2 separate regions of the Homo sapiens genome follow, and region 2 is linked to region 1. The links come from fine-mapping of genetic effects on gene expression. A gene starts in region 1. The other region holds a variant in brackets. All regions are shown on one strand. Distances are between the middles of the regions. Region 1 holds the start of SCN9A (sodium voltage-gated channel alpha subunit 9). Region 2 overlaps SCN9A (sodium voltage-gated channel alpha subunit 9).

Region 1 (15,525 bases):
GCAAATGTAATTTTATTTTAGCTCCATTAAGGGTTAAACATATTTGATAGAATGCTTGGTAGCGTAACCACCAGGTATATCTGTGTGGGGTATGTGCAAACGTATTCTTGGAATATATAAGATTTCTTTCCTATAAAAGAAATGTGTATGTTATTCAAGTTTAGTAACCATTGTGAGTCTTTGGAAAGGTTAGGTAATTTCTGAGCCTTAGTGTTCTCACCTCAAATGGTGGTCATGAGGATTTAAACGGAGCATATGAAAATCCCTTAACAAACTGCTCAGTTAGCATTAAGGAGACGTCCATACATAAGACTGTTACATTAATATTATCAGTAATGTTAGCAAGATGTAAACTTTTCCGTATGTATTTTTCCTTGTAACAGCATAATTGCTGGCCTTGCACAGTGGCTTACACCTGTAATCCCAACACTTTAGAAGGCCGAGGTGGGCAGATCACCTGAGGTCAGGAATTCGAGACTAGTCTGGCCAACATGGTGAAACCCCATCTCTACTAAAACTGCAAAATTAGCCGGGCATGGTGGTACATGCCTGTAATCCCAGCTACTTGGGAGGCTGAGGCAGGAGAATCACTTGAATCTGGGAGGCAGAGGTTGCAGCGAGCCAACATCGTACCACTGCACTCCAGCCTGGGCAACAGAGTGAAACCGGCACACCTTTACCTATGTAAAAAACCTGCACATCCTGCAAATGTACCTTGAAACTTAATTAAAAAAAAAAAAAAAAAGAGGCTGGGCATGGTGGCTCACGCCTATAATCCCAGCACTTTGGGGGGCCTAGGCGGGCAGATCACCTGAACTCAGGAGTTCAAGACCAGCCTGCCCAACCTGGTGAAATCCTATCTCTACTAAAAATACAAAATTAGCCAGGCGAGGTGGCTCATGCCTGTAATCCCGGCTACTCGGGAGGCTGAGGCAGGAGAATTGCTTGAACCTGGGAGGCGGAAGTTGCAGTGAGCCAAGATCGTACCATTGCACTCCAGCCTGGGCAACAAGAGTGAAACTCGGTCTCAAAAAAAAAAAAAAGAATGCATTTTGATTATAATATTCTAAGTTATTAAATGCCTAGATACCATTATTGAACATCTACTCATATCTACTTATCATGTGTAAGACACTAAAGTGGCTGTTTTGGAAAAAACAAATTACGATGTATATACATATATATCTCCTAATATATAATATACTCTATATATAACATATAATATAGTCCTTAGAAGTAAATACTACTAATTTACAGGAAAGCAATATTTAAGAAATTAATATTTGACTAAGACCACATACTGAGTAAAGGAAATATTTGGGAAAAATAAACTTCCTTTCACTATACTAATTTGAACTCAAATTTATTTATCTGTGCTTTTAACACTTTATAAAAATATTTTACAGTCTGAAATATAGTAGAGATGTAATATAAATTTTGAAAGGCACTTCTCTGCCTAGCTGTTCTACAAGTGTTCATTCCTAAAAGTCTGTCAGCTGATCTCATGGGATTATAAGAACCTTATTCCCAGTTGATCCCTGAGTAGGCCACTTCCCTTTTTCCTACCTGAATTACCATGAGCCAAGTTTGTAAATGGGGTAACAAGAATACATATTTTGTTAAGAGGGAAACAAATTCATCACTTCAACTTTATAATATTTTGTTCCATGCAAAGATCATTTACAAAGATTGGTCCCATAATATTTACCTAGAAGGAATCACTCAGATAAAGGCATCACTTACCAATAAAGCATTTAATTCATCCTATTCAAAATGTCCTCAATAAATTATCTTTACTCTGAGCCCTAAAAGATACACTGTCTATTAGACTTGAAAGAATAGTCATTTAGTAGAGCTTAAATCAATATATGAAATATAAATTTTAATTTTTTTGTAGAAACAGATTTTCCTTTTATTGCCCAGGCTGATCTAGAACTCCTGGATCAAGCAATCCTCCAGCCTCGGCCTCCCAAAGTGATGGGATTGCAGGGGTGACCAGCTGTGCCTGACATAATATTTTATTATCATGAAACATTTTTCTCATTTTTCCCTGTTTTACTCATCTGCATGGATTTGAATATCTACATTTACTTCTTTTTTCAAATTCTAAAGTATAGACTCTCAAGAAGATGACATATTTTTAAAATAATTACATTGGATTTAAAAACATATAGTGTAGGAGCAACTAGTAAAAGTTGACAGATACCACATCCAGTGAAATTACCCCCAGTTAAAATAATAATAATAATAATAATAATAATAATAATAATAATAATAATCATCATCATCATCATTAGATAATGGGCTGAGCGCGGTGGCTCATGCTTGTAATCCCAGCACTTTGGGAGGTCGAGGCGGGCGGATCACTAGGTCAGGAGATTGAGACCATCCTGGCTAACATGGTGAAACTCCGTCTCTACTAAAAATACAAAAACATTAGCCGGGCACGGTGGTAGGCGCCTGTAGTCCCAGCTACTCGGAGGCTGAGGCAGGAGAATGGTGTGAACCCAGGACGCGGAGCTTGCAGTGAGCCAAGATCGCGCCACTGCACTCCAGCCTGGGCGACAGAGCGAGACTCCGTCTCAAAAAAATAAAAAATAAAAAAAAAAAAGAATCTTTAAAAATCAGATAATACAGGGAGTCTAGGTGTGCATATAGCACATAAAATTTTTATTAAAAATCTTATGGGAATGTTTTTAATACTTATATTTTAATGCATGCTTCTAATCTTATTTATCTTTCTTTAGAGGCTCAATTTTCCAATTATTTGTACTAATAGTTTGACCTAAAAGTGGAGTAAAATTTGCCTTACTGGCGTACATATCAAACATTTGGAAGATGAGATGTAGGAGAGAAGAAGGAAAAAAAAAAAGAAAAAGGGCATTCATTGCAGGGCAGGATGCTAACTTAATTGTAAATGTACACACTCTTTCTAAATTTCCAAGTGAACAATCCTAGGTGCAATTAGAGCTTTATTGTATTTTGATAAATGATTCAGAAAGCTTTGTAAAAAATCCAAGGAGACATTTTAAAGAAATTTATGATCAGTAATAGCAGTCTCTCTAACACTTGACATAACAAGAGGAAATCATAAAATGAATAGCAAGGAAATTACAGTTAAAGTAACGTTAGGTTTCAACAGTAATATATGGCATTTTTGGCTCCATGTTATATCACTTTAAAAAATCTAAAGATAGTTCATCTCCTGTGTTAAAGAAACAACAACAACATATTTTTTGCTTACAGTAAGTTGTTATTTTAAAAAGAGACGTGGAAAGAACGGTTTTCTCTATAGAACTAAAAAGATATAGAATAATTCAGTTCTACATATGTCAATTCAAACTTGTCTGTGGCAGATTATGCTTACTGGCACTGTTCAAGGCATTCCCCTCTTCCTTCCCCACTTTATCATGGCCTGGCATTTTTCCTCACCACCCAGAAGGGTTTCATTCCTCCAAACTTCATTCCACCTTTAGCTGCCAAGAGCTGATGGCTTTTTCTTTTGCCTAAAGCCATTTCCTTCCAGCAAGGCAGAGGAAAGGGTAAGTGATACCTTCAATGAAGAAATTTCATTTTTTAGAATGGCAGGACACCAAAATTGTTATCTCATATTCCACAAAAGTATTCTACCCACATTCTCTGGATGCTCTCATAAATCCTCATATAAAATATTTTTATACAATTTTATAATATCTATTTTAATATGACCTTGCCTCTCAAGTGGTAATCTAACTCTACACAGTTCTAAAGGAAGATGTCATAATACTTCTGTAAAGAATAAATTAGCTAATTTGTGATGTGTAATATGAAGGACCATCTTCAATTAGTACACAGATGCCCTCCAATACAACATCCACAATATGTCCTCTTCAGAGCAAATTTTTAAAAATCCCTGCTCACAATTAGTGAAATAATTTAGTCCTTCAAGATGTAATGTGGTAACCAAATTATTTACCAAAAATCTGTGGCTGGCCATTTGCTACATAAAAAAATCATTAATCAGTTTGTCACCTAATTGAAAGCTAAATTTTCAACCAAATGTTAATAGCAAAACTAGTTGTTTGTTTAATATCTTTAAGCATAGTCTGCAAAAATAAAGGGGGGAGGCAAATCACCATACAAAGTGTGTGTGTGTGTGTGTGTGAGTGTGAGTGTGTGTGTGGTAAAATTCTAGTATGAAAATGACACAATCATTTATGAGCATGAAGTTTGCAGTCCTTACTTCCACTCTAATAACAGTGATGGGTCTTCATGGATAAGCCCACATTGCCTCTCTGAACCTTCCTTAGAGAATGCTTCAAATATTTGGATAATGTGCCCTTTGTACCTGGGGCAAACATCAATTTAGACCGTGTGGAAACCTAACTTATGGCCTCCGCCTCATCTGACTACATTTCTATCAACTGAGCTCACATAAGCATCTATGTTTATTTTAAAAGAATATTTTAAATTCATAGTCAGTGACTATTGACTGGCCCTCAAATTTCTGTTAGATGATACAGATTTAAACCTAACAAGGTTATCATTTTAGATTTGGAGTCACTTATAACCATATTAGTTTATGCAATCCAATTTTTTCTTAAAATATATTTTAATACATTTGTGGTCACTGCCTTTCTAAGAATGCATTACAAATTACTTACCTTTAAGTACATTATCACCTACACTGATAAAAGAGAGAATACATCTCAGGATATTTTAATTTTACCTCCTCAATATCATACCATGATATTGTAAAAATACTAAATGCTTGACAAATAAAAAATAGAATCACAAAATTCATGTTTCCAGGGTTAATATGCTTTATTCTGGAAGAATCCATATTTTTGTATTTTATTATTTATATAAATATCTACGAACCCCCTACTACTTGATGCCAGGCACTATTCTGGAAGCTAAGTCAACAATGAAGACATAGTCTGGGTTCCCTTGGAGTATTTGGTATGCAAATTCACAAAATACCTGCATGCTGTAACAAGCAGTATGAAAGAAACAAGGTTCCAACATCAAGACCAACACGGGACAACCTACTTTTAACAAGATGATCAAAAATGATCTTTCCAAAACAAAAAAACCTCGAGTTGAGATTTAAAGTTTAAGAAGGAGTAAGCACGCATAGAGTTCAGGCATTGGGAACAGCATTTGAAAAGGCCTTAAAGAGTGCTATTGTTTCATGTGTTTTAGCCACGACCTGGGCAGGAGCACCTTAATGAGAAGAGAATAGGTTCTGGTGAGGTTGGAGAGAAGGGACAGAACAGAGAGTAAACCATATGCTGAGGAAAGGCATTTACTGTTGTTGCTAATTGGTCTCTGTGTTGCCATGTTTATTTCTTCTTCTCCTCTTCTTCTTCCTCTTTTTTTTTTTTTTTAAATGCAGTTGTGAGCCAATGTTTGTTAGGGGAGACAGGATGGTATTGCTTTGTATAGAGAATGAATTGCAGGGGAGAAAATTACAGAAGTGGAGAGATTGATATGGAGGCTGTGGCAGGATTCCAAGTAAATTATGATGATGACCTGAACTAATTTGGTGGCCGTGTAGATACAGAAAAGAGGGTGAATGAGAGGCATCTGAGACGTATGATGAAATAGAAATAAGTTTGGGAGATAAGATTGATAGATCTACTTACAGGCTGGAAAGGGCTGAAATGGAGTAATAAGGAAGAGAGCAATCAAAGGTGATTTCAATACTTGGATGGTGAAGGCATTTATTCAGATAATGAAGATGGGAGGAAAGAATCTGAGACAGAGTTTTAGGGAAAGTCATAAATTATTATCATTATGACATCTAGAATGTTCCATTTACATCAATAAACTTTAAGCTCTTTTACAAGATCATGACTTGTCTTAGAAAAGTACCATATAAATCCTTCTAGCACTTCACACTCTTTTGCATAACTAATAGGAATAGAAATTGGATAAAAAATAGATTTTATTATTCATGTAAAATGAAAAATTCTACTTTTTTCCTTGCCACAGAGAAAGTGGGTTGATTATATTAAATAAATAGAACCCTACTGATTGCTCTTCTGAATTTATTTATTTGTTTATCTATTTTGCTTCTGAAACTCAGCACAGCAACAGGTAGTAAAAACATAGAAGCATTACCACAGAAGGGCTCCCATGATTATATGCAGGCCCTAGGGGAAAGGAGGCCCAAGATGCTTTTGGCAGAGAGCCAGACCTGACTCATCTTTCTTCTGTAGAAGCATCAGGTACTCTGTGAGCCTAGCCCTGCACCATAGGAATCAAGGCATATCATATATCCAGTCACTGTAAAAACACATCACTGAGTCCCACAACTGCACAGTGGCTTACTTAAGGAAACCTCCTTTTAAACCTCTACAAAATTTTAAAAAACTTGTCTTAAGCCAAACTATCAGTTGCCTAAATAGAGGGCACATTCTTCTTTACATCAAATACCATATTCTGTCTAGAGTTTTGTTGTTGATAAGCTAGTCTAACAATCATGAAAATTTGCGACACAGGGATCAGATAAGACTAGCTTTCAAACTAATCAATAATTTTTAAAAAATCTCACCATAATTATAAGAAAAAATTATAAACTTTTTTAAATAGTGGAAAAAATCTGAAGAATTTGCAATAAAATGAACAGTTTAATAATTGGATTTGGTTTGCAGTTTATATAAAATAGGTTTATATTGATGTTAAAGCAAAAATTATAAAATATATTTAAATAACAAGGAAAGAAAGAGAAAGAAAATCTTTATCTTGTCTACAGGGAAGAAGAAATAGAAAAGAATAATAAATATGTTTCTGAAAAGAACTGAACTTCCCAACACTGACTTCCTATTCAGTAACTGACAAGCTATCACTTCCTTGAAAGCTTACTTTGATTTGGCTTTTATCTTACTGACACTAGCTTCTTAAAAACCCCCCTAAGTTTCTCATGTAAATTGCTCTTAACATCAGAGTAGATATAATCTATGAACGCTCCAACTTAAAAAAAAAAAACTAAAATAATGAGTGAAATGTTTACTATAATCACAAAAACTGGCATTAATGTTTCTAGTTTCTTGTTCTGATTTTTGTCTTGAATATAAGGCACGAAAATATCCATTTTTTCCTAAAAGTAAATGAGTTTCCCAAGTTGAATTCGATAAAAAGTTAAAAGGATTCTGCATCTTTTCTGAATTTCACTATAAAGTGCTTATTCGAAAAAATAAATAAATAATCTGCGCTGAGAAATAGGGGCAGAGCTGTCCTGTCAATTATTTGTGTTTGTGTGCTCTTAAGGGGTGCGGGGTTCTTTTCTGTCCCCACAGGTTGTATCTGCTAAGCTGGTTCTGCACGCTCAGCTTTGCAGATGGGAAATACAGCACATGCTTTTTGCTCGTAAAAAATGTGAGCTGCCCCTTGAATTGAAGTCCATCTAACAACTCTGCTAGCGTAAACAGAAATAAAAGACAGTAAACCACCAGGCATTGCTACCCTTCCTTTCCACAGTTTCAGAACCTGGCAGCAAACCCACAGAGTCAAAACCGCACAGGAGCTGCCCAGCTATCGAAATAACTACGCTTCCAGCCCTTCTTCCTCCCATTGCTGGAACCACCCGGTCAAGCTTCTCCCCTCTCTTCTTTCCAGGTGGCGTAATACAGGGTTCCAGAACCGAGATGTGAAAATAGACACAGGTGGGTGTGGCGGTTGAGGCGAGCACGGGCGAAAGACCGAGGGCTTCTCCTCCCCTCCCCACAGAAGCAGCAAAAGAAAAGGCACTTACTTGCAACCTAGCCCGCCGATCATCCCCACCCAGTGCACCTGCAGAATCTGGCTCCAGGAGAGGGCGCGGGCCTCTCCTTCCCCGGCGCTCTCTCAGGGCTGCTTCTTTTTCTCTGGGCTCCTGTTGCTCAGGGGACGCCTGCCGCTAGCAGCCACTGGCACCCAGGCTAGCCCAGCCTCAGCCGAGCTGGCGGAATTGGAAAGCCGACAGCCGCCGCTGGAGCGCTGGCGACCGCCTGCAAGCAGACTGCGCCCCTCCTGCCAGGGCGCGCCCGTGGAGGTAGCAGCCCCGCCTCCCCGAGGGCAGCTGCGCCGCTTTGCCTCCTCCACTCCTCCCAGCGCGCCCGGGTCCCCACCCCTTGCTCCCTCCCTCCCTCCCTCTCTCCACTCCTGCGGGCGGCGCAGGGCGGGGACCCAGCTAGGGGCGCGGTGGTGGCGACGCTGTAGCCTCTGCACCATGCGCTAATAGAAGGCGGAGGAGGGGGTTGCACGACCTGCCATCCACGGCCACCCATTGGGTGGGGCGTGTGTGTGTTTGAGTGTGTGTGTGTGTGTGTCCAGCAGCCAGAAGAGCCCTTCCCTTATCTCACCCCCGCCCCCATCATCCCTTTCCTCCCTTCCTGCTCAGCAGAATCGGCTAATGTTTCCGAGAAGTCACTTTGTGTGGCTTGGTGGGGAGCTGGAGAAAAACTCCGGAGCAGAGGAGGTGGGGACCAATGGCAAAGCCCTGAGTCTGGGGCAGTGGCTGGGGAGCCAGACAACACCGCCAGGCCAGCGCCTCCCCGACCTTGGGCTCTGAAGAGTCTAGGCTGGGAATTGGTTTCTTCCGTAGGGCTTTGCTCACAACCGCGAGTGGGGCGGTGACGCTCAAGACCGGTATCTAGGCTATGTTTTCTGTTTTCTTTATATATATGTATATATAAAATCAATTGAATTGCAGCGTCTTCCAGGCAAGCAAATAATACATTTTCTTTCGAAGATGCAGTGAAGAATCAGAGGAGGTCCTAGGTGGGGAAAGAAACGTGGGGAAAAGGCTGCTTTTCCAGACCTGGGACCCGATTATCTGAATATGCCATCAGTCATATGGGTTCTGAATTTCAGAGCTGGTAGGAGCGACTGTGAAAATAAATTTTTTAAAAATTCATTTTGTGTGGAGTGTGTGCGTGCGCTTTCCTACAGCAGCCTGGGAGGAAGAACAATGGAAACAGGGTTGAATTATCTTTCTCAAAGAGAAACAGGAAATTTCCACCAAGGGAAGAAATCAAAGGATGGCCATAGGGCAGGGTGCCTCTCAAAAGGGCAGACCACTTTGCAGGATAAACACTAGTGACGGGCACTTTTATTATTTGCTTCCACACCTTCTATCATGGAAATGATGCTTAGAGATAACCGGAAGGAAATCAAATCCCAGGGTCTACTTTTCCCTGCTGCTTTCTTTGCTTCTGAGATTTGTCCTGGGGCTTTGGACCTTACATTCTTGACTTGTAAGATGTGCTATTGAAGGAAGGAAACTTCAGTGACTGAGACTGTGCAATGAAGGTGAACTAGCTCACTTGTGATAATTCTCAGTGCCATATCCTGGACAAATCGCCTTCTCTTCCCTGATTGGTGGTAGATATAGGAAGAAGAGTTCAACTGCAATAGGAATAATGGTCTTTTTTATTAGATGCAAGCAATGCCACATTCTTTTATTTTTAAAATTTTATTTTTAGAGCAATTTTAGGTTCACAGCAAAACTGAAGGGAGGGTACAGAGATTTCCCACATAACCGCTACTCCCACACAAGAATAGCCTCCCCCATTATCAACATTCCCCACCAGAATGAAACATTTGTTAAAATTAATGAACTTACTTTGAGGTTTCATTATCTCCCAAGGTCTGTAGTTCACATTTAGGGTTAGCTCATGGTGTTGTCCATTCTATGGGGTTAGGCAAATATATAATGACATGTATCCACCATTACAGTATCTTACAGAGTAATTTCAGTTCTCTCCTGAATTCTCTGTGTTCCACTTATTCATCTCCCATTTCAACCCCTGGCAAGTACTGATCATTTTACTGTCTTTATAGTTTTGCCTTCTCCAGGATATCCTATAGTTGCAATAATACAGAATATAGCCCTTTCAGATTGACTCCTTTCACTTAGCAATATGCTTTTAGTTTTCCTCCATGGCTTTTCATAGCTTGATAGCTCATTTCTTTACAGTGCTGAATAATATTCCATTGACTGGTGGTACCATAGTTTATTCATTCACCTACTGAAGGACATCTTGTTTGCTTCCAAGTTTTAGCAATTATGCGTAAAGCCTCTATAAACATCTTTGTGAAGGTTACTGTGTGGACATGTTTTCAAGTCCTTTGGGTGAACATCAAGGAGCACAATTGCTGGATCATATGGTGAGAGTATGTTTAGTTTTTAAAGAAACTGCTACACTGTCCTCAAAGTGGCTGGAGCATTTTGCATTCCCACCAGCAATACATGAGAGTTCCTGTTGCCTCACATCCTTGGCCAGAACTTGATATCATCAGTGTTCTGGATTTTGGTTATTCCAATACATATGTGGTGGTATCTCATGCCCATTGTTGATACCATAAGTGTTATTTGATTTGCATTTCCCCTGTGATATATGATGTGGATCACCTTTTTATATGCTTATTTGCAATATGTGCATCTTCTTTGGTCTGTTAAGGTATATGGCCCATTTTTTTCATTGGGTTATTTCTTTTCTTGTTGTTGAGTTTTAAGCTTTATTTGTATATTTTGGTTAACAGTCATTTGTCAGATGTGTCTTTTGCAAATATTTATCTAACACTGGCTTGTTGTCCGTTTTTGCAGAGCAGAAGTTTTTAATTTTAATGCAGTTCACCTTAGCAATTATGTCTCTTATAGATTATGCCTTTGCTGTTATATCTAGAATAACACATATGTTAGATACATTCTTAGAGTGGAATATATAATGCATTATACATTATATATAACCTATATATTATAACATGTTATATATTATATTACTATATTATGTTATAATATATGTTATGTATAATACATATGTTGTATATAATATATAACATATTATATATTCCACTTTAAGCATCCATTAACAAGAACTTACTATTCTCAATATATCTAGGTTCTTGTTAGAGATCTTCAAACATAAAATCCTGGAAAATGATAAAACCAAAAATAAAATCCTCTTGGTCTGACTGAGGGATCCCTTGCAGGATTTTCCCTGTGAGCTCATAGGCAAAGCATTAGGTATATTATTCATTATTTTCCCAATTTTCTTTCATGTTCCAACTATTTATTTCCTTTCCATTTCTTTTATGTGCCATTCCTAGTCTACAGAACATTAGCTGTTTGTGTTTTTCTTGCTCTTTTGGCAGCCCTAGAAATTTTATCTTGGTTTAAACCCAGAAAAAGTATCTTTCCAAATTTCTTATTAAATACTACACTGCACAGCCTTGAGAGTTCATTAAACACTAAATGACAGCGTCAGATGTAGACATAAGTAGATGGTACGTTTAAAATTTAAAGGGTAGGCTTGAATTAAGGGAACCAGACAAAGCCTGTCTGGTTGAAAAAGCCAATAACCAATAAGTTCCTAATCATATTTACAACTGACCTTCCGTAACTTAGATAGAAAAATGTGGAAATGTTGAGTCATGGAAATTAACTAACATCATACAATCCATACCAGAATAGGAATAAGAATTTTATTTCCCTTAGTGAGAAATAAATGGATATCCACACTTCTGTATTTTCCACAATTGCCACTGCAATTTTCAAAACTGTAGAAGTTTCTGGAAGAACAAAAAATAGACAGTAATATTAAGGCAATAAAATTAATACAATACTGAAAGAGTTTGTTTTTCTCTAATTAAATAGGATTAGAAAAATACTTTTACCTTCTAATATTGGCTGCACGGCAATATTACAAAGTAAGAAAAAACAATTATTCTGTTGTGAAAATAGAAGAATAAAGTTACAAGTTTTGTGTATACATAGCTAAAAAGTAGGATTCAAAAGTAGAACTTCAAATTATAACTAAAAAGAAATAGAATATACAATGAAGATTATCAGACATAGATTGGAGTGATGAGATGGGCAAATGATGCTTAATGAAACAACTGAAGAAAAGAGGTTTCCTAAATGTATTGGCATCTGAGTGTTTGCTCGTCTAATTTGACGTGGTCTGGATTTTTTTGGCCAGAAAACTGATGTGAAGAAAAATAAATGTTTTGTCTTGCATGTAGTAGATGCTTAGTAAGTATATTAATTGATTACTTATTCCTGAAGAATTTTCCCCAGTGTCATAGTCCACTGATGGGTCCCTTACCCTAACAATGGTTTTGCTGATAATGTGCTTTCTGTGGAGTTATTTTTGATCAAAACTATTGTTATCGACATTCCCTTGTAGAAGTCTTCCATTAGATAAGGGGACAAAATATATGAAACACTAGTTTTCAGTCATTGGGCAACATTATCTATAAGACAGTGATCCCTAGAGAAGAGAAAGAAAGTGAGGCTGTGATTGTCTCTGCATACTACACAAAGTTTCTAAACCACAGCTCAGGAAGATGGAAACATGAAGAGCCAGAAAATAAGAGTTTGATAGGCTGAGGGAGCTAGAATTTGTTTATTTGGGACAGGACACCTAAGACAAGGGAGCTGAACAGAGAGTATACCAGAGATCTGTAGAAAGAGACCTCAAGTTTTTGCTTGACAGCATTCTGCAATTGTGTGAAAACAAAAATACCCTAAGCCAGAGAAAGAACTACAGTCATGCATTGCCTAACAATGGAGATATGTACCGAGAAATGTGTCACTAGGCAATTTTAACATCATAGAGACAGTACTTACACAAACCTAGATGGTATAGTCTACTACATACTTAGTCTTTATGGTATAGCCTATTGCTTCTAGGCTATAAACCTGTACAACATGTTACTGTACTGAGACAATTGTAACACAGTGGTATTTTTGTGTCTAATCATACCTAAACATAGAAAAGTTACAGTAAAAATACAGTATTATAATCTGTGGGACCACCATCATATATGCAGTCTGTCCTTGACTGAAGTGTTATCTGGCACATGACTGACATGACTGTAATCTTAAGTAGCAGGTTAAAAATTCTTGGACCTCACACAGGGATAGTAATATTTTATCCTCCCCAGTCAAAGTGAAAAGACCTCAAAACACAGGAGATATTGGGTAGACTCTGCAGAAGGGTCTTATCTTAGCAGTGGGGCTGAATTAACTTTAACTAACGTTGCTCTGGATTTATCCTAACAAAGCTTAAAAGTGAGGCTTAAAAGGACCCAGGTGATTTCAGTTTGCTTATATGTTAGCCAGAGTAAAATCCAACACGTCTCAAAGGACCTAACAACGTAAAATTCACATTGACTGGCATCCAATCAAAAATAATGAGCAGGCATGCAAAGAAGAAGGAAAATATGAGCTAGAGCCCGCAGAAAAGTCAATCAACAAAAACAGACCCAGAAATGACAAAGATAATGGAATTAACAAATTAGGACATTAAATTTTGTAATATTAAGTTGGCTATGTATACTTAAGACAGTAAAGAAAAATCTGAATATGATGAGGAGAGAAATATAAGATATAACACACAAAAATGGAACTTCTACATATGGAAAATACAATATCAGAAATGAAAATTCAATGTATTGTAAAGGCAACACTCGGAATAGTAGTTAAGGAATATATATACACATTCAAAATAGAAACTAATGATCCCTATAACAACAAAGTTAATTCACAACCTGTTTTAACAGCTTGACTGCTATTGTTCCAGACTTTTATTTTCCTATATGAATACATATGTCATTAATAGTATTTGAAACAATAAAATATTAATGCAACATTTGTTAAACAGTTATAATAATTTATAGGTAGCTGTGATCTTTTGTAACTTTAAATAAATATTTCAATATATTCATTTAACATACATGTATTACATTTATTAAGTTAATTCTCAAGGATCAGAAATTTTTCTTCCCTCAAAGATATATATGGCCAGGTGCAGTGGCTTATGCCTGTAATCCCAGTACTTTCGGATGCTGAGGCAGGAAGATTGCTTGAGTCCAGGAGTTCAAGACCTGCTGGGGCAACATAGGGAAACCCCATCTCTCAAAGAAATAAATAAAAAATTAGCCAGAGACGGTGGTGTGCACCTGTGGTCCCAGCTACTTGGGAGGCTGAGGTGGGAAGATCAGTTGAGCCTGGGAAGTCAAGGCTGCAGTGAGCTCTGATCTTGTCACTGTACTCCAGCTTGGGCGACAGACTGAGATGCTGTTTCAAAAAAAAGGAAAAAAGAAAAGAAAAGAAAATTAATTTTAAAAAAGACATAAATAGGTCCTCAAGATAGTTCCAAAAGAGACATTTAAAAATATTTCAGCAAACCCATCGCTAATGATACAAGATATAACTTCCCAAGCTGTTACTCTAAAGGAGATAACAGCTATTTAAATTTATTTATTCCATTATCTTTACTAAATTGAAAGTTTAATTATGTACTATGAAATGGAGTTTGAAAATAATGGTGTTTTTCTTGTTGTTCTGATTACCTTAAGAAGGAGTATTGGCAAATTTGAATGTGTAGTCTAAGATGTGGTGATAGCTGATTCTTTCCAGGTTAGTAGGTTTTAAAGCAATGATGGGGATAGAATCAGTTTGTGGACCAAGAGTTCTGAAGATTTTAAAGGGGCTTTAGAGAGAAGTGAGGCCAGGGAGGTCTACAGAGACCTAATGGCCCAAGGGTCTTCAATGCAGCTGTAAAAGACTAGTTTGCTATTTATAGAAATCCACATTCTAAATACTAAGTTTCTTAAAGATACTCACACTGCAAGTTTTTATCATAAAAGTAATAATCAGTCAGAGCAGGAGTCCACAGCAGGAACCAGGCCACACAGCAAGAGGTGAGCTGCAGGCCAGTGAGCAAAGCTTCATGTGTATTTACAGCTACTTCCCATGGCTTGTATTACCACCTGAGCTCTGCCTCCTGTCAGATCAGTGGCAGCATTAGATTCTCATAGGAGCGCGAACCCTATTGTGAACTGTGCATGTAAGGGGTCTAGGTTGTGTGCTCCTTGTGAAAATCTGATGCTTGACGATCTCTCACTGTCTCCCATCACCCCCAGATGGGACCTTCTAGTTGCAGGAAAACAAGCTCAGGGCTCCCACTGATTCTACATTATGGTGAGTTGTGTATTTATTTCATTATATATTACAACGTAATAATAATAGAAATAAAGTACACAATAAATATAATGCACTTGAATCATCACAAAACCATCTCCCACCTCTGTCTGTGAAAAAAATGGTCTTCTAGGAAACTGGTCCCTATGCCAAAAAGATTGGGGACTGCTGAGTTAGAGTTTATCTTTTAAATCAAAATTTTCAAATTATTGATTACCATTGCTGCAAGATTTTTTTTCTAACATTTCTTTTACTTTCAGCCTAATTGCATTTACTACTTTTACGTTGCCGTATTTTAAGCAATTCAGTAAATAGACTCAAATTTTCATGGTACTGACGAAGAATAAAAAAAAATAAAAATTTTAAAAAGCAGAATATATTTGCGTAGTGTCTAATAAGATATGTTAAATTTTAAACCAGAGGCATGTTTTAGCAAAGTCTGAATTTATTTACACTCAAAAAAACCTGTTGATATTCTGAAAATGTATTGTCATGTGAAATGTGGAGAAGACAAGTTGAATGGTAATACCATGTAAAAATAATACTGTATAAAAATGATCAGCATGATT
Region 2 (15,525 bases), 70 kb before region 1:
ACAGAAAGTAGATTAGTGGTTGCCAGGGGCTGGGAGAAAAGGGAAATGGGGAATGACTACTAACGGGCCCTGGGTTTCTTGGTGGGAAAGATGAAAATATTTTAAATTAGATAGTGGCGATCGTTGCACAACTCTGAGTATAGTTTAAAAAATGAGTTATACAGTTTAAAAAAAGGAATTTTGTGGCATATAAATTATTCCTCAATAAACCTATTTTTAAAAGGGAATGCAGCATAACGGCAAAGGTTGTGGGTGGGGGTAAATAAATGCCAACTTATCACTAAAATACGTATGGGGAAAATGAAAATTGATATAACAAAAATACAGAATTGATATTAAATCTAATGAAGATTCTGGGTGAAGTTTTTAAATTAATTTTCAAGATTAATGTAGCAAAATAGAAAAAAAAATGGTAATTCTGCCCTTGCTCAGAAAGACAACTTATGACAATTGTGTATGGCTTGGGCCTATGGAAGTGAAGAGTATATCCCCAACGAAGGGCAAATAATGCAACTCTGAGAAAACTAGTGCAGGGGATCAGGACTGGGCAGAGGGCCTGCACATGATACTCTACACTCTGGCAAATGTAGTTCTCACAAGAAAACAGCTGTAGATGAAGGAGATAGGAAAATTCCTGTTAGTAGTGAAGGCCAATATTGCGGTTTTTTCAAAACTTTCTCTATTAAATGTCAAATATTAGAAAAACAGGAGGAAGAGAATATCCTGTTTTAGCCCAATATAACCACAGTATATTTCTCCATAATACTGCACATTTAGCTACACACTGTGCACATGAACCCCACTTTCATCTGTAGCAGCATAAAAAAGTGTTTGATGAGCATCAAAGTAGACAGCAACACCAAAGGAAATCTACAAATTGTATGTTTTTCAGCAGGAGGTGAGACAGTGGGTTAATTTATTTGATTGTGAATTTGGAAAGGCATTTCGGAAAATACTTTGCTATAGGCACCAGAAAATGCTTTTAGATTATGCTCAGGTTCTCTGTGTAGATTGCCTTTACCATTATAATTCCTTGATCTTTTAAATATTGCCAATTCATTTGCCTTAGCACTTTCTCATGATCTATCAACCAAGTTCTTGTCACTCTTTGTACAGCTTAAATCCATGGGCATTCATTATCATCAGTGCCTAACCTGGCAGAACCACAGTCTACACATAATCTGGCATCTGTCTTTTCCATGCTGGCTACCAAATGGCTGAATGTTGGTGGAGAAACTCTCACAACCAAGTGAATGGTTATATTTTAAGTAAGTAATCTCCAACATCAAATTTGCACTCAAAATACACTAAATTTCTCATGCCCTGATATGACCATATATATAATGCATTCTCATCAAATCATCTGTAGAATTTTCTCTTCCTCATTTGCACTCTCAGGCAATGATCCCATCTTATACTTTGAGGAAATAAAAACCATTGGGTTTGAACTCAATCATCTTTTGATAACTCTGCAGTCTTCTCTTCTATCTTTCCTCCTGTTTCGGTGGAGCTGTCGCTCCCCTTTACTCTTTCACTTTCACGAGGACTTGACTTCTCCCTCTCTCTCCTGAATTGATTCATATATAACTACTCATTCATTATCACTAGCAAAACATCCATACAAAAACCCATATATTTTTTTAAATGCCAGCCATTTGCCCCATTATTCTGCTTCCCTTTATAGCCAAATTTCTTGGGAGAATTGTCTACACATATTACCTTCTTTCTGACCTCTTCTTTTCACCCCTGTATGCACCTTATTCTTACCTTGAACCCTACCACTTACCCAAATTTTCTCAAGAAATTCTCTGATGACTTCCCTGTTACTTAACCTAATGCATATTTCTTTCTTCATCATCCTTACTCCTTGATCTTGCAGCATGATTCTACACAAGCACATCTGTTTCTACAATATGTTTTCTTCTCTTGGCTTCATTATTTATATCTTTGCTTCTTACTTTATTGGCGGCTCTTTCTCTGTGTTCTTTTCTGGGTCCTCTTTTCTACCTGAATTCTAAATGTCAGAGTTGTAGATCTTGGTACCAGATTGCTTTAAATACCAGGTTTCCCATTCTCTATCTACTTAAAAATATCAGGGATGTTCAGAGGTAGAGGTGTGTGTGTCCTTTCTTTTTGCTGATTGCTCTGGAATTTATCTCCAAACTCAGCAGGCCCTCTGATTTCTATACTTAAATCTCCAATTCTCTATATTATATATCCACCTGGACATCTCAAAGGCATCTCATTTTAATTTTAGCTAGCTAATAGTGACCTTCCTCTACAAATGTGTCCACCATTTCCTCATTAACCATCACCACCCATCCAGTTATTGCAGCCAGAAACTGAGAAGTCATCCTCAATGCTTCCTGTCTTCTTTAATCCATCAGCAAGCTCTACAGACTTTGTATGTTGAGCTCATCTTTTTTCTCTTCATTTCTCTGCCATCACTCTAGATGAAACCTTTATTTTCTCTTGCCTAGATGAGAGAAGCAACCTTCAACTTACCTTTCTTATTCCCATCTACCATCTACCCTTGCTCAATCAGTTGTGCACAAGACAGACAGCAATAAAAATGACTGCATTTAAAATAAAATACAAACTCCTTCCCATGGGCTGAAATGTCCTGCATGATATGACCCCTATTTTTTCTGCTACTTTCTCTGTTGCCATTCTTCCTTTCTCTTACCAAACCACGCTGCTGTTTTTCCATTCTTTAAACCCATACCCTCCCTTTATTCAGGACCTTTGCCCATGCTATTTCTCCTAATTGAAGCAGCACCCCCCACACATAGACTCACACCCACACTTAAACTATTTTATGGCTTCTTACTATCTTTTAGATCTCAGCTTAAATGCCATCACCTCAGAGATGTCTTCTCATCTAGTTGATATCTCAGCACCTGAGACTCACTTCCTTTGCATGGCATTTATTATAACTTGAGATATTTTTAATTTATTTGTCTGTTCCCCCTTAAACATTTTTTTTCATTCCCACTAGATGATAAGCTCTGTGAAAGCAAGGGCTGAGGCTATCATTTATTGCTATAGCTCAGGGAAACCATGTAATAAACGCACCAATAAATGAAAGTTTGAATCAATTATGCAGTCAAAAATGGCTTCTATGACATAGGAAACAGAAGCAAAATTCAGACTTGATTTAAACACCTCTTCACTAAAACTACATTTCAGAAGAAAATAAAGAATAATGTACAGATTTGGAAGACAGGATTGTGGTATAAGATTCATTATTAGCTAATTGTCATGCATTCATGTTTAAATATAATATAAAGATAATTCACATAACTCAAGGGCTCTATTATTATTATTAATTTATTAATTTATTTATTTTTGAGACAGTTTCGCTCTTGTTGCCCAGGCTGGAGTGCAATGGCACGATCTCGGCTCACCGCAACCTCTGCCTCCCGAGTTCAAGCGATTCTCCTGCCTCAGCCTCCTGAGTAGCTGGAATTACAGGCGCCCACCACCATGCCCGGCTAATTTTTTGTATTTTTAGTAGAGACGGGGTTTCTTTTTTTTTCTTCTTTTTTTGTATTATTTTTTAGCAAAAAAAAAAAAAAATACATGAAGCAATTCCAGAAAGCGATGAATTAAATTAAATTTGATTAAAGGCTGTCTGTGTACATAGAGAATTGCAATCTAACTTCATATGTAAACAAATTGCATTCTAATCTATTAGTATATTCTTGTAACAAGTAGCTGTCTCAGCCAATCACAGCAGCTGAGCTTCAGCCAACCACAGCCTGCTGATTTATCAGACAATGTCCACATAAGGCAAATGTCAAGCTATAAGCAATCAAGCTGTTTTTGTGCGTCACTCCCTTTTTCTGTCTATAAATACTCCTGCTCATGTTGCTGAGTTGAGCTCTCCGAACTTCTCTTGGTTCTGAGTGCTGCCTAAATCATTATTATTATTATCTTATTTCAGCAATAAATACTATTTCATTGCTGAAATAAGCTGCTAAATTTAATTTGTTGAAAATTTTTCTTTTAACAAAGGTTAAGAAAACCATTCACAGTATAAACTCAGAAATAGGAGCAAGACTCAGAATAAAAGGACAGATCCCAGTGAGAAAACTTAAGTTTAAATAAGTGTGGTAAAATAATCTACAATATTAAATGTAAGTTACTCATCAGATATATTAATTTTACAGCATATAAATTAAGAAATAAAATTCTCCATCCATTGGAAATAAGTTTCAAATCATGTTTGTAACAATCAGAAACTGGAAAAGAGGGTAAATATAAAAAGAAGGGGAAAATATGCTAAATTCCTCATCAAATGGTGGTAGTAAAAATATATATGCTAAACATTTTACTTCAAAACTTTCAGTTTTCTTGTTAAGGCTTCTATTTTTTTCTGTCATTTTATTTATAGTCTTTTACCATGTGGGCTAGGTGTTATTTGATTTTATTTATCACAGTGAGTGAGAAAGGACACATTTGGTAAAATAAGAAAATGATGTATATTACTTTTTATTATCTAAGGAGAATCCTGACCTTTCCTCCCTCATTTCCTTTTGGCAACAGCACATATATTTGAAAGGTTTCGTGACTTCCATACCACACCTGGGTCAAATTATCTATTAAGATTTATGTATTCACGTGGGCACCATCAGATAGATACATTCCAGGTGTCAGACAGAAAGTACAATCTTGATCATATCTTCATCCAATATTCATCAACCGTTCCAGTGAGAGACACCATGCTAGGGGATAATTGTTTAGAGAACATTCAATTCATGCTTTATGTAAGAAACTCTAATTGATACTTCTGAATTAAGCAGACTTCTGAGAGTGCATACAGATGATCTCATGTGGTACCTACAGAAATAATTCTACTGAACTAAACTTTGATATCTTGCCATCAGCCTATATTGAAGGAAGCCATTAAAAACAGCTATGAAACTCGTCATTGGTTACAAAGTGGATGTTGATAAAGCTGAGCAAATGATTTTGCTTTGTACAAATCTTTAGGAATACTATCAAGATACAGATACTATCTTTATATTTGATAATTAATATTATCATTATATATGATTAATAGAACTTTAAGATGTTATAGTTATGAGTACAATCTATTAAGTATAAAAATCTATCATAATAAATATGTCACATTATATATAATAAATATAAGTATGTACTATATAATAAAATTATATAAAATATATAATCTATTATATTGTTAAATGTAATGGTTAATGTTATTAATTCAAGGCTACATTTATTTCTCTAGAGAAAATAATTCTTTTTTATGATATAGAAATTAGGAATTATGGAACTATCCTGTGTTCCTTTTGCCAGTACTGCTAGATAGCTTAGAACCAGGATGATTTATGAAAATCATATATAACATGACCCAAATTCACACTGTAGCAGCTTTCTATATATTTGAATAGCTTTGAAATGATTAAAATGAAAGCAACATTTCATTATTAAAAGAGAGCAATGTTTTTAGCATTATTTCAACCTAATAACAAATGCAAGGACATTCTTACTTCTAAAGTCTTCTTCACTCTCTAGGGTATTCATTATGCTTTCTAATGTTTCATTATTTTCAAGTGAATTTCGAAAACATTTATGCTTCAGGTTTCCCATGAACAGCTGTAGTCCAATTAGTGCAAACACACTCAGACAGAACACAGTCAGGATCATGACATCAGAAAGCTTCTTCACTGACTGGATCAAAGCCCCTACAATTGTCTTCAGGCCTGAAAATGGGAGAAAAAAGTGTTTGTAATGACATAAAGCCTCTGAATCGAAACAAAAAACACAAGCTTTCCTAGAAAGTCATGCATTATATCAAATCAATGACCTTAAGTAACCTAATTCAAAAAAAGCCTTCTGGGTTTGCTATTTTATATATACTTTGTTTTTATATATTACAGCAAATGGTTAAAAATAGGAACATATTCTCAAAGAATACC[T/C]AGGTTGTCAAAATGAACAATTTGGCTATTCAAACCACTTTAAAAATAATTTTTGTAAGTTCTAATGTTTGTCAAACAAACCACTTCTCTATAAATGGCACCAAAACAAATTACAGCATATAGTGACACCTTGTAATAATTTTCAATAAAGAAATGGTTTGCTGAGAAAAAATAAAAAACAATGTCATGCAATATCCCCATGCTGATATTTATGATCTCTTTCCTAAGTATTTTAAAATCAATTAAAATGGATTGAAATTTTCCTTCCTGTATAAGCAAATGGAAAAACAAACCCTCAGACAGGAGGGAAGATTTCAAGTTGAGATGTGAGCCAAGTAGTCATCCTCATCCTAAAGACCCATGCAATTGATTAAACTCAAAGGTTGACTTTTGATAATGATTGTGGAAAACAGAAGAAATCAAATTTAATTAAAATTGCATAAAGAAAGGTTTTTTTTATGTCTTTCTTTCAAAAGATCAAAGTCAGCCCTGGTGTTTAACCCCACTCTCACCTGGAATGACTGAAATTGTTTTCAATGCTCGGAGAACTCTGAATGTTCTCAATGCTGAGACATTGCCCAGGTCCACAAACTCTGTCACATATCTGTAATAGGGGAGTTTATACACACAGTGACGACACACACACAAACGAACAAAGAACAACTCCCAAATAGTTGGAGTTATGAGTGGCCTAATGCTTCACACCAATTACTTCTTACCTGGGATTACAGAAATAGTTTTCAAAGCTCTCAATACTCTGAAAGTTCGAAGAGCTGAAACATTGCCTAGGTTTACAAATTCTGTTAAATACCTGTAGAATTAAATCAGAATTATTCAGAATTTAGATAGAGTCTATGATACTTACCTGAGCCTTTAGTCAAGGTATTTTCTACGTTTGGGGCTTCTATTTTAAATGTATAGTTCTGCAAGTCTTTTTTGCTATCATAACTAACTTAATTTAATTAGCATTGATTTGACTCATTTGATGCAAACAAAATACAGATATTATATATTATTAAATTGGATTCATACACTTAAATGCGTAAACAACTAAATGTTTCAATTGTTGGACCCTTAACATTATGGTAATTTAGACTTTTAATTTTTTATAAAACATTGAAAATAGTATGCTAAGTGTCAGACACAAAAGGCTGCATACTGTTTGATATTTCCATTCATAAAAAAATCCAAATAGACAAATCCATAGAGATAAAACATAGATGAGTGGTTTCCAAGGGGCCAGGGAGAGAAGGAAATTGAAGTGACTGCTAATGAGTACAGAGTTTCTATTTGGGGTTGTTAAACTTCTCTAATTAGGTAGTGGTGATGTTGCGCAAGTTTGTCAATATACTGAAAAACACTGAATTGTATACTTTAAAATTGTGAATTTTGTAGTATTTGAATTGTACCAATAGGAAAAAAAGGAGACCTATGAGAAGAGGCAGTCTTCTTTGCACAATGTTTTCTTAGCAGCAGGTAGCAGATGGAACTGCCCCATCATATGTGACCTCAAAAGGAGGGAGCCTGATGGAAAAGAGGTTAGGCAGGGATGAAGGAATCGGATATTAGGAATCTTAAGACCCTTCTGTATTGTCTAGGTGGCTCCAGTGAACCTGGATTACTTTGATAATTCAAAGTCATTAACGGAAAATAGAATATCTAGATATGAGATTGTAAAAATCCATTTTTCTGATAAATACATTTGGGAAAAGAGTAACAATTATGAATAAATTAAAATTATACTGTAATGTAATATTTTCCTTGAAAATAAACTGAGTGTATATATAATGTGTATACAATGCATTAATCTTAGGCTTAGTAAGCAGTGACAGCTCTTTTACAAATATATACTTTTATATTTTAATACAAAAATATAAAATAATTGAATAATACAGGGTAATATAAAGAGCACTGTACTTGTATTTAAAGGCCTGAGTTTTTTGTGTGCTTCTTATAGGTTTTATTCATTTTTAAACAAGAACTTGGAAAAAGTGTAAACCTAATTGGCACTGCATAGACTATCCATCCAAGTGCTGAGCATGGAGGAAGATGATCAATCTCAATGATGTCACATACCTCTGAGTGGGAGATAGTCTTTTTGAAAAATTTAGTATTTGCCTATCAATGACTAGCTTTCATATAGCTTCCATTTTCCTTTAAATACAGACATTCCATGCTGGAAAAATCAGACCCCAGAGGTTTGCTGTTATTGGAACACTGTGCTGCCTGAGATTTTCATAAATTTGCCGTTTCAAAAAGCTGAAAGTACTTACGCAAAAACAATGACGACAAAATCCAGCCAGTTCCACGGGTCACGAAGAAAAGTGAATTCTCCTACACAGAAGCCTCTTGCAAGGATTTTTACAAGTGATTCAAAAGTATATATTCCAGTAAAAGTGTACCTAAACACAAGATTCCATTGGGATACTAGATGTGAAAAGAATACAACCACCATGTAAATCTTTATAACTTATTTTCTCTAATTAACCACTGGAAGACATATATTGGAGGATGGCTGTTGGGTTATGGACACACCCTATTAAACTACAATAGGTCTATCCAGAAAATATTAAAATGTCAATATCAGAAACACTCCCAGAAAGCAGAGGTACTTGAAATAACTAAGAATATAGGTCTCAGATCTGCCTAAAAATTTCCTACATTGCTTCTATCAAAAATTCACCCAATCATTTAAAAATACACCCATATAATTATAAAACATACACCCAAGAATAAAATATGTGTAACATGTCTAAGAACAGGATGGAGCATCTGACAAGTTCATTCTTTGAGAAAACACTGTAGCATCTAATTTTTCTAATCTAGCAGGTTAATATCATAGAGGAGGTAAAGAACAAAAGAAAAGCAAGCATATAACATGGGAAGGTAAAGATTCCCCATCTTCATAAATGCAGTAACTTCCTGGCAGGAAAAGGAAAGGATGAAATGATAATACCAAAACTATATTAAAATGTACTTATACCCACTTACTCGACATTTTTGGTCCAGTCCGGTGGGTTATTCATGGTCATAAATATGCAGTTTGTCAGAATAGTGCACATGATGAGCATGCTGAATAAGGTAGCTTAGAATCAAGGAACAAAAGAGACGACAGTGGGAATTTGAAATATTTGAGGATGACACTTGTTGAAATGCTTACAACTTTTCCTAAGAAAAAAATTCTAAATGAGCTTGTAGACTATTTTGTCTCTTTGAACAAGAGAGTAATAAATAAAAGTAACATATCCTAAAATCTTAATATTGCCACTCTCCCAGTCTTCTCTGAGACCCATGACAAATTATATTAATAATACTGAAATTAATAAACTAAAACCAGAGTCTTTCAAGGTGCAAAAGGTATAACATCTATATTTGAATAAAATAGCAAAAATTACACCATAAAGTGCCACTGGATGTAATCATTTTTAAAAGGATATGAGTGTACTAAAATCTTAATAGATATTCTTCTTAGAGGACTGAAAGGAGAAAGCATATATAAAGCAGGTGTGGCATTGAAACGGAAGATTGTTTTCCCTTTGTTCAATACTATGAAAGTCTGCAGGAGGAAAAAGAAAGGATGAAATTGAGAATCCAAAATATCAATTTTTCACATCAATATCAGCAGTTTACCTTTCTACATGGCAGTGTTATATTGAAGAAACACTGCCATCAGACTCCAGCAATGTGGTTCCAATGTCATCAACGCATCTATCAATGTCACCTTGGCCAATGAACTCCAAGTCCACTTCTTCATAGTAACTTTAAAAATTGAGCTATTTGTTAGCATGTATTGCTTAGAGCTTTCAAAATACTGTATTTCATATTTTTCATTTTCTTTCACCAGTAACAATAACTGTGGTTAAGTTATTTTAAAGTACAACTTCTTTCCCTTCCATTACACTGCATTTTAAGAAAGCCAAATAGAAACTAGCTATCTCTAATATTTTTATCATAAAACCTTGAGAATTTTAATACTTGCTGGCAATTGTTATGGTTAGCAGCACATGTTCCAAAATATGAGTTATTTCAAAAAATATTTTCCTAAGTTGAAGGAACGTCAGAGTTGGAAGAATCCTTCCAATCACTGAGTTCAATTTCTTTATTTTAGTTATAATACTAATATTAGCTTTTAAAAGGGACTTAAATTAAGAGGATTCCTCACTTACTAACCACGGTAATTTAAAAAACGATATGAATAGAAGCAAACATTCTTGAAATGTTATTGTAGCCATTCCATAAGTGTCCTTTTCCATAGCTTTAGTATTCAGTTAAGAAATAAAAACAACCAGCAGTAACAACAAAATATTAAAGCAACCTAAAGCATTGGCTTAGAAATCAGAAAGACAAAGTTCAAATCCCAGCCTTATTTTTCTCCGGTTGGCAGGAAGATGACTTGTGTTAGCTGAAAGACACTGACTTTCTAAATTTTATATAGGGTTATCAGTGGGTTTCTGGCAATAAGCATTTCTCACCGTATTCAGGAGGTAAGTCTGTGAGTCAGGCTTTTTATTTGTATGCGGCAGCGTTCCCTCAAGAAAACAAATCAGAGTCTATTGTTTTCAGGTGTCCTTTTATTTTCCTGCTCCCTTTCACTGTATCAGTTCTATCTAAATACAATTTAATGTAAAATTCACTTTTACATGGAAAATTATTTTAAAATTAATACCTAGTCCTCAAGTACAATCCTTTTTGTCTTAAATCTCAGTAGACTGTATTTTTAAAAAATTATTCATCCATTCTTTCTGCAATTGTATTGACATGGTTTGGCTCTGTGTCCCCGCCCAAATCTCATTTTGAATTGTAATCCCCACGTCTCAGGGGAGGGACCTGGTGGTAAGTGATTGGATCATGGGAGCGGTTTCCCCAGTGCTGTTCTCATGATAGTGAGTGAGTGAGTTCTCATGAGATCTGATGGGTTTAAAAGTGCGGCATTTCCCTCCTCTTTCTCCCTCTCCTGCACCATGTTAAGATGTGCCTTGCTTCCCCTTTGCCTTCGACCATGATTGTAAGTTTTCTGAGGCCTCCCCTGCCATTCAGAACAGTGAGTAAATTAAATCTCTTTTCTTTATAAATTACCCAGTCTCAGGTAGTTCTTTATAGCAGTGTAAAAATGGACTAATACGGCCGGGCGTGGTGGCTCACGCCTGTGTTCCCAGCACTTTGGGAGGCCAAGGTGGGCAGAACACAACGTCAGGAGATCGAGACCATCCTGGCTAACACGGTGAATCCCCGTCTCTACTAAAAATACAAAAACAAAATTAGCCAGGTGTGGTGGCGGGTACCTGTAGTCCCAGCTACCCTGGAGGCTGAGGTGGGAGAATGGCGTGAACCCGGGAGGCGGAGCTTGCAGTGAGCCAAAATCGCGCCACGGCACTCCAGCCTGGGCAACAGAGGGAGACTCTGTCTCAAAAAAAAAAAAAAAAAAAAGACTAATACATGTATAGTCAGAAACTATATCATAACAGGTAATGAAAAGGAGTTTGAACAAAAATAAGGCATGAGTTTTGTATTCAAGGAACTTCCTAGAAAAATGAAAAGAAGAAAGTAACTAATATAAGGCAAGATGTGACAGATATCATACAGAAAAATATAAAGGGGGAAGAATGAGAGTGAAGAGGGAACAGGGTCACATGACTGTCAAAATTATCAGGGAGACTTTATAAACCGGAGGTCATCTGAGCTAACATGAAAAATCACAACATACTACATAGTATTGGCAAGATCAAGTTACCTTATACTTGAAATTTTAATAAAAAGAATTGTTGGTATTTTAAAATTGAAATTAGCAATTTTCATTCTCATTAAAAACTTTTAAGTGATTTTTGGGTCTGCATACACATGAGAGTTAATTATTAGCAGGAAAAAATAGGTATGATTATAAAATTTGGCAGATCACTGTGTCATGTCCAAAAATGTTATGCTAAACAATTATACTAAACAATGTATACTATGTTATACTAAACATTATACTAAATTTCACAATTGCTTCAAAGAGAATAAAATACCTAGGAATCCAACTTACAAGGGATGTGAAGGACCTCTTCGAGGAGAACTACAAACCACTGCTCAAGGAAATAAAAGAGGATACAAACAAATGGAAGAACATTCCATGCTCATGTGTAGGAAGAATCAATATCGTGAAAATGGCCATACTGCCCAAGGTAATTTACAGATTCAATGCCATCCCCATCAAGCTACCAATGACTTTCTTCACAGAACTGGAAAAAACTACTTTAAAGTTCATATGGAACCAAAAAAGAGCCCGCATCGCCAAGTCAATCCTAAGCCAAAAGAACAAAGCTGGAGGCATCACGCTACCTGACTTCAAACTACACTACAAGGCTACAGTAACCCAAACAGCATGGTACTGGTACCAAAACAGAGATATAGATCAATGGAACAGAACAGAGCCCTCAGAAATAACGCCACATATCTACAACTATCTGATCTTTGACAAACCTGAGAAAAACAAGCAATGGGGAAAGGATTCCCTATTTAACAAATGGTGCTGGGAAAACTGGCTAGCCATATGTAGAAAGCTGAAACTGGATCCCTTCCTTACACCTTATACAAAAATCAATTCAAGATGGATTAAAGACTTAAACATTAGACCTAAAACCATAAAAACCCTAGAAGAAAACCCAGGCATTACCATTCAGGACATAGGCATGGGCAAGGACTTCATGTCTAAAACACCAAAAGCAATGGCAACAAAAGACAAAATTGACAAATGGGATCTAATTAAACTAAAGAGCTTCTGCACAGCAAAATAAACTACCATCAGAGTGAACATGCAACCTACAAAATGGGAGACAATTTTCGCAACCTACTCATCTGACAAAAGGCTAATATCCAGAATCTACAATGAACTCAAACAAATTTACAAGAAAAAAACAAACAACCCCATCAAAAAGTGGGCAAAGGACATGAACAGACACTTCTCAAAAGAAGACATTTATGCAGCCAAAAAACACATGAAAAAATGCTCATCATCACTGGCCATCAGAGAAATGCAAATCAAAACCACAATGAGATACCATCTCACACCAGTTAGAATGGCAATCATTAAAAAGTCAGGAAACAACAGGTGCTGGAGAGGATGTGGAGAAATAGGAACACTTTTACACTGTTGGTGGTAAACTAGTTCAACCATTGTGGAAGTCAGTGTGGCGATTCCTCAGGGATCTAGAACTAGAAATACCATTTGACCCAGCCATCCCATTACTGGGTATATACCCAAAGGACTATAAATCATGCTGCTATAAAGACACATGCACACATATGTTTATTGTGGCATTATTCACAATAGCAAACACTTGGAACCAACCCAAATGTCCAACAATGATAGACTGGATTAAGAAAATGTGGCTCATATACACCATGGAATACTATGCAGCCATAAAAAATGATGAGTTCACGTCCTTTGTAGGGACATGGATGCAATTGGAAATCATCATTCTCAGTAAACTATCACAAGAATAAAAAACCAAACACCGCATATTCTCACTCATAGGTGGGAATTGAACAATGAAATCACATGGACACAGGAAGGGGAATATCACACTCTAGGGACTGTGGTGGGGTGGGGGGAGGGGGGAGGGATAGCATTGGGAGATATACCTAATGCTAGATGACCAGTTAGTGGGTGCAGCGCACCAGCATGGCACATGTATACATATGTAACTAACCTGCACAATGTGCACATGTACCCTAAAACTTAAAGTATAATTAAAAAAAAAAATTAAAAGTAGTATGCCAATGCCAGAGCCAATTTCAATGAAAAATTTGAAAAAGTACAGATTCTGAATATCCTATATATATATATATATATATATATATATATATATATATATATATATTTAATTTAACATTCTGGTCATGATATGGTTATTCACTAAATTTCACTAATCTCAATTTAAAATAATTTTTATACAGAAGGAAGCCAACAGAAACTGACCACTGAAGTCAAAATAAACTCACCTTTTTGTCTGCATAGTAGGGGTCCAAGTCCTCCAGGGGCTCTGACACCATGCCGGGAGGAATGTCCCCATAGATGAAGGGCAGCTGTTTGCCAGCTTCCAAGTCACTGCTTGGCTTTGGGGCTTCTTCATCATCATCTTTCTTTTCTTCTTTGGGTTCCTTTGATTTTCTTTCAGCAATGCGTTGTTCAATGAGGGCAAGAGACTGTTTTGTGAAATGGACAAAGCTCTGAGGTCCTGGGGGAGGCAACATTGCCATCTTTTCATCCTGTATATTTTAATTCCTCTTCAGCTCCTCACATAAGAGGCCTGGATGGAAACAAAGAAATAAAGACTTAACTATTTGCCTGCCAAGAAAGGCCCATTAAAAACTAATAATAACAACATAAACAGATTTTTAGTTTCAACTACAAAAGGTAACATGTTCTAGAATTATCAGCTTGTTAAGGGATTACTATGTGTCAGGCAATGGGCGGGACTTATCTTTCGTGCCTTCTAACCATCTTTATACTCAGAAATTTGAAGTTTACGCTTCATAGCTTTAAAGTAAAAAATGACAATTTTCTGAGTAAATTTTCCTAAATTCCCCTTCTTTTCGTCTATATTTACCTTTGGTGCAATTCAACTCAACTTTCCTCTTTTAAAAGTCTTTATGATAATGCCTTTGGTAGCACCACTCTCCAGCCTGATGCTGTTTTACCAACTAAACTTATGTAATATTCTAAATCCTCTGCTGTCACTTCAACAATGTTCATAACATCTTGACCAGGAGAAGATTCCATCTCACGAAACCACTTTCTTTGCTTATCAATCAGAAGCAACTCCTCATCCATTCAAGTTACCGCGAGATGGCAGCAATTCAGTCACAATTTTAGGCTCCATCTCTTAATTCTAATTCTCTTGCTATTTCCACCACATCTGCAGTTCTTTCCATCACTGAAGTCTTAAACCTCTCATAGTCATCCATGAGAGTTGGAATCAACTCATTCCAATTTCCTATTAATGTTTGTATATTGCCCTCCTCCCACAAATCATTAATGTTCTAATAACATCTAGAATGGTGAATCCTTTCCAGAAGATTTTCAATTTACTTTTCCCAGACCCATCAGAGGAATCACTATCTATGGCAGCTATAGTCTTATAAAATGTATTTATTAAAAAATAAGACTTAAAAGTTGAAATTACTCTTTGGCCCATAGGCTACAGAATGGATAGCGTTAGCAGGCATGAAAATAACATTAATGCCCTTGTACCTCTCCGTTAGAGCTCTTGAGTGACCAGGCACATTGTCAATAGGCAGTGATATTTTGAAAGAAATCTTTTTTTTTTTTCCTGAGCTATAAGTATCAACACTGGGCCTAAAATATTTAGTGAACCATGCTGTAAACAGACGTGCTGTCATCCAGGCTTTGTTGTTCTATTTATAGAGCACAGGCAGAGTAGATTTAGTATAATTCTTAAGAGATTTTCTGAATGATTAAATAATATAATTATTATTTAATTTTCTGAATAATTAAATAATATAGTTATTATTTAATTTTCTGAATAGTAAAGAATATAATTATTTAATTTTCTGAATAGTAAATAATATAATTATTATG

The links.
Region 2: its variant is fine-mapped to the expression of SCN9A in lung (TOPMed, PIP above 0.99).

The regions. Positions count from the first base shown.
Region 1 is chr2:166,367,959-166,383,483 of GRCh38, forward strand. SCN9A (sodium voltage-gated channel alpha subunit 9) reads right to left here and starts at 7,986. Exons shown (of 27, transcript NM_001365536.1): 1 at 7,739-7,986.
Region 2 is chr2:166,297,574-166,313,098 of GRCh38, forward strand. SCN9A (sodium voltage-gated channel alpha subunit 9) reads right to left here. Exons shown (of 27, transcript NM_001365536.1): 2 at 13,926-14,233; 3 at 9,383-9,501; 4 at 8,937-9,026; 5 at 8,219-8,347; 6 at 6,665-6,756; 7 at 5,517-5,729. The coding sequence starts at 14,183. It overlaps SCN1A-AS1 (SCN1A and SCN9A antisense RNA 1), which reads left to right. Exons shown (of 12, transcript NR_110260.1): 11 at 1,117-1,268; 12 at 3,358-4,211. Among named protein-coding and RNA genes, the nearest start is that of SCN9A, 71 kb to the right of the region's middle. The variant T/C (reference allele first, on the strand shown) is at 5,946.